2 separate regions of the Homo sapiens genome follow, and region 2 is linked to region 1. The links come from fine-mapping of genetic effects on gene expression. Tissue or cell type: whole blood. Region 1 holds a variant in brackets; the other region holds the start of a gene. All regions are shown on one strand. Distances are from middle to middle.

Region 1 (2,688 bases):
TGCAGGAACATGGATGGAGCTGGAGGTCATTATCCTTAGCAAACTAATGCAAGAACAGAAAACCAAATACTGCATGTTCTCACTTATAAGTGGGAGCTAAGTGATGAGAACTCATGGACACAAAGAAGGGAAGAACAGACACTGTGGCCTACTTGAGGGTGGCGGGTGGGAGGATGGAGAAGAGCATAAAAAATTACTGGGTACTAGGCTTAGTACCTGGGTGACAAAATAATCTGTACAACAAACACTCATGACACAAATTTACCTATATAGCAAACTGCACATGTACCCTTGAACCTAAAATAAAAGTAAAAAAAGAATTTTATATAAATTGAACCATGCAGTGTGTACGTTCATTTGTCTACTTCTTTCACTTGGCATACATTTTTATTTGAGATTATCTAAATTGCAGCATGTATCAATAGCTACTTCTTTTTGTTGCTGAGTAATCTTCCACTAAACTTGTTTATCCATTTACTCACGGTGGAGGTTTGGGTTGTTTCTTGATTTTGGATATAAAAATAAAGCTGCTATGAACATTCTTTTTTTTTTTTTGAGATAAGGTCTTGCTTTGTCGCACAGGCTGGAGTACAGTGGCATGATCATGACTCACAGCAGCCTTGAACTCCTGGGCTCAAAGGATCCTCCCACCTTGACCTCTTGAGTAGCTAGGACTGCAGGCACATGCCACCATGCTTGGCTGATTTTATTTTTCAAATTAAAAAAAAATTGTAGAGATGGAGTCTAGCCATATTGCCCAGAGTGGTGAACATTCTTGTAGAAGGGTTTGTGTGGAAATGTGCTTTGACTTCTCTTGGGTAAATACCTAGAAGTGTAATGATTAAGTCATATGATAAGTGCAGATTTGACTTTAAAAGTAACTGTCAAAACATTTTCCAAAATAGTGGTACCTTTTTAAATCCCAACTGACAGTACATAAGAGTTCCAGTTCTCCCACATTCTCATCAACAATTGATATGGTCAGTCTTTTAATTTGAACCGTCCCAGTAGGTTTGAATTGATATCTTATTGTGGTTTTAATTTGCATTGTCCTAATGACCAATGAGATTGGTCATTTTTCATGTGCTTATTTTCCGAGTATATACCTTTTTTGGTGACATAGCTCGTTCAAATACTTTCGCCATTTTTATTGTTTCTTTTTGTTTTATTATTTAGTTTTATGAGTTCTTTATATATTCTGGATATAAGTCTTTTATTTGGATGCAAGTGTTTTAGATGACTTGCAAATGTTTTTCCCCTAGCCTAGCGCTTGTCTTTTCATTCTCTTCACAGTGTCTTTCAAAAGCAGTTTTTATGTTCGATGAAGTCCAATTTATCAATATGTTATGGATTGTGCTTTTGGCATTGTAGCAAAGAAATATCTTACTCCTTAAAGTTTTTTACCTTTTTATTTGGAAACCATTAAAAATGTGCAGAAATGTTGCAAAAATAAGAATAGTGTAAGGTACACCTGTATAACCTTTACCTAGCCTCACTTCTTGCTATCATTTAATTCATTTGCTTCATCAGTTACTTCTCTCCCATCCATCTCTCTTTCATCTCCTCTTTTTCTGAACTACTTGAGAACTGTTTTTCTGAATTATTTTATTTATTTTTAGAAACAAGGTCTCCCTCTGTCATCCA[G/A]GGTGAAGTGCAGTTGCACGATCATGGCTCACTGCAGCCTGGAACTCCTGGGCTCGAGGGATCCTCCTGCCTCAGTGTCCAGAGTAGCTAGGACTAGAGCATTTTTCTGAACCCTTTTTCTGAACTATTTGAGGTAAATTGCATATATCATGTGTCTTTACCTGTAAATACTTCAGGTGTACACTTTGTAAGAATAACTTCTTTGTGGAAGTTATCAACTTCATAAGTTTACATTGATATACTAGTTTTTTCTAATCTACTGTCTGTATATTCATATCATACCTTTTATAGTTGGCCTAATAATGTCCTTTGTGGCATTTTTCCCTCCAGTACAGAATTTAGCCTGGGGTCAAGTATTACATTTAGTTGTCATGTTTTTTTAACCTCTTTTATTCTGAAACATTCCATAAAGTTTCTTCTTTTTCATGATGTTGATATTTTCAATGTCCCTTTTGGGGGGTTTATCTGATATTTCTTCGTGATTAGATACAAGCTGTGCTTTCTCAGGGTAGGTTATACGGTATTGATCTTCTCAAGGAATCACATCTGAAGACACATGCGGTGTATGTGCTCCTCATTCGTGATGCTAATTTTGATCGCCTGGTCAAATAATTGTCCAAATTCTCCATTGCATAAGTACTGTCTTTCCACTTGCAACTAATAAGCAGCCTGTGAGATTGCTTTAATTCCATCTAAACATCCTCTTCATCAACATTTCTACTTAGATTTAATATCTACTGATTTTTATTTTATCCAATCTTTATTTTGATGCTTACAAAATACTGACTTTTTAACTATAGCACTTCCTCCACACTTACTAGTCAGCATTCAGCATTTTACTATAAGCAAGCACTTCTCCACGGTTATTTATTTTTTATTGATATGAGCTTATGATTTTCTACATTTTTCTAAATGTATTTATAATTATTACTTTATTATTTTAATACTGAAATTGTCTGAGATTTGGCCAATGGGAGCTCCTCCAAACTGGTTCTTCTGTCCTTGTGACATGCCCCCACTATTTTTTTTGAGCAGTTCATGGCT
Region 2 (2,688 bases), 340 kb after region 1:
TTTAACAATAAATATCTTTGTGAAGAGTAACTGAATTATTATTTTCGTGCCACTTGCAGATATTTGAGCTTTTAAAATTTTGTTACCCCCATGTTTGCTATTTTTTAAAAATTAACAATTCATTAAATCTTTTAAATAAAAACCAAATAGCATTTATTGAGGCTTTATAATGTGCAAGGGACTGTGCTAAGCACTTTACCTGTAATACCTCATTACATTTTCACGTTAACTTCTTATCTCCTTTTTACAAGTGAGGAGTTAGAGGCTCAGACAAGTGAAATCACTTGCTTGGGGACACAGAGCTAGAATGTGGCGGAGCTGCAATTTTAATGCACCTCTGTCTCATTTCAGAGCCTTAGCTCTCAACTGCCAGGCCGCACTCTTCTGCTTGCTCTTTATACCCTCATTGCTTAATGAGAGTACACTAGCAAACAACAGGAGTCTAATGAGATAATGTATGTGAAAATACTTTTCTAAGTATAGAGATGTTTGGGGAGGGCAAGCAAGGGTAGGGAATTTGTTTAAATTGGGCGGACCTGTCCACTGACCCCTAGACAGTCAGGATTTTTTTTTTTTTTTTTTACAAAACCAAGATCAACAACTTTCTTTTGTTCCTCCTTTAAAAATATTATAAAGTTATATTTACTTCCTTTTTCCCAATTATTGTTTATAAATTAAAATATGGAGAAATAAAAGCCATTTCATAATAGTCCTCACCCATAATTACTTTGTTTCAGATTTGAATGGCTATGTAACTATTACACACCTGCGTTTTACATAAACAGTAGCAACTAGACATTTGTTCAGTATCTTGCTTTTTCAGCCCTACAATATATCTTGGCCATCTTTTTATATAAACACTTACAAATCTGCTTTTCTCTTTTAAAGTAGCTGCATAATATCCTATTCTGTGAATACAGATAGGTAGGTAGGTAGGTTGGTAGATAGATAGATAGATGATAGATAATAGATATAGAGAGCTATGAAACTTTTAAAAATCACCTACTGAAGGACATTTAAGCTTCTTCCAATTGTTTGATTTCCTAATCAATGCTGTAATGAATACCCTTCCTAAGAAAGTTTAGAAGGATCTTTAGACTGAGTGTAATATTTGTCCACTGTAGTTGACGAGAGTGACCCCACAGGACGCTGTACTGAGGGGAGGAGTATGTTTCACTGCGTGGAGAAACAAAGAACTCTCTCCTAAGCATGACCAACACATTCAGAGATATTAGAATTGCCAACAGGTGGGATGACCTGAAAAAGAACTCCTTGCTTTGACAGTTTAGTAATAGAGCAAAGACTTGCCACGATTGCTCAACACTGGCTGGATCAGAAGAGGAATTTCCAGACTCAGTTACAAGCACGGCTGGTGGAGGGCTGTGAATCCCACCAGACAGTCTGGAGACAGCTAGGCAGGGAGATGAGCAGCAGAGCTCCAAATCAGGCAACAGCACGTGTGAAAGGAGCAGTGACCTGTGGGGAAACTCATAACTCACAGACCAAACCCCTTCCAGCAGAGGGCAGTGCCTCTGATACGACACAGGGCCCAGGCCAGCTGGAGCCAGAGCTGGGGACTTCGCTGGAGAGATGGCACCGGCCTGAGGTCAAGGAGAAATTGAACTAAACTCTCCTTTGAAGACTGTAAGTGACATTGGGGAATACTCAGGGAGGGACAGTGGGACCTCACACTACTATGATTCGCCTGTGTTCTAATGTCCAACAATTTAGGCTGAGTAATAAATCTCTTTATAGAGTTTGGCCATTTAGGGCTTGTAAGTAAGGGAATTTGGAGTCATTTTTGCTAGGCTGGCCACTGAGTCTCGCAGGTTTCTGGGTACATGCTTGAATTGAAAAGAAAGTGACACACCTAAAATACAGCCTAGACTCCTGGCCCTGGGGCTCTGTGGATCCGACACAAAGTTTACAAATAGAAAGCTAGCAAAGGGAAAGATAGTCGGAAGTAACAATTTTATCTAAAAATAGAAACTTAGAATCTAACACCAGAGTTACTACTTGCTTTTGAATTTCAAAGACTACATAGGATGGCCTTTAAAACAAAACTTCAGCATGTAAGAGCCAGCCAAGCAAATTGTTATACATAATCAACGATTAAAATAAATTAGTCTTTAGGCCTAAACCGTTTCCAATCAAATCTTTCTTGAATATTGGTTACCTTTTCTGCCGTGTAGTGGTTGGAATCAAATGAGAACATAGCTGAGCAGAGTACCATAAAGTCTACTTCTAATGCTGCTGTTTTCGAGCCTTGTGATTTTTTTTTAAGTGACTTTAGTATTCGCTGGTAAAGTCAAGGCGGATCTACCAGACGGTAAAAGTTCTGTGTGTTTGTCAGGCACGGCTAAGTAAAACGCACTGCATCTGAAAGTCTAAGGGTAGTTTGCATGCATCTCTCAGCAAAATAGCAAGTGGAAGAAATACCAGCAAGGAGAATAAACTTTCTGGGCTGTTTGATTTCCCCTGCAACTTCTAGTCCAGGGATGTTTGGCGTTCTCCCGGTCGCTAGATTATTAGCCCGCAGGTTCCGCACCGGCCAGGGAGCCGCTCAAGTCCTAGGGCCGGGCGGCTGGAGGTTGCAGGTCGGAGGGGCTTCTACGGGTTTGGGGGTGGGACGGTCCGCGGCAGCCGCGGGCGGGTAAGGACTGACGTCGCAGGTTTCCAGAGGCCCGT

Which allele goes with the higher level. Alleles are on the strand shown, and positions count from the first base shown. SD is a standard deviation of normalised expression in the study named.
In carriers of allele G in region 1, the expression in whole blood of the gene that starts at base 1,567 in region 2 tends to be higher than with A alone (small effect, 0.24 SD a copy in GTEx).

What was found. PIP is the estimated chance that this variant, and not a neighbour inherited with it, causes the effect.
Region 2: RAP2C starts here. The variant in region 1 is fine-mapped to the expression of RAP2C in whole blood (TOPMed, PIP above 0.99). The same link has a PIP of 0.9 or more in atrial appendage, breast, gastroesophageal junction, left ventricle, lung and pancreas.

Annotation. Positions count from the first base shown.
Region 1 is chrX:132,557,266-132,559,953 of GRCh38, reverse strand. No RefSeq gene overlaps it. Among named protein-coding and RNA genes, the nearest start is that of MBNL3, 70 kb to the right of the region's middle. The variant G/A (reference allele first, on the strand shown) is at 1,645.
Region 2 is chrX:132,218,326-132,221,013 of GRCh38, reverse strand. RAP2C (RAP2C, member of RAS oncogene family) reads left to right here and starts at 1,567. Exons shown (of 6, transcript NM_001271186.2): 1 at 1,567-1,644; 2 at 2,673-2,688. RAP2C-AS1 (RAP2C antisense RNA 1) reads right to left here and starts at 2,507. Exons shown (of 3, transcript NR_110410.1): 1 at 2,177-2,507. RefSeq lists enhancers at 1,196-1,245, 1,576-1,645.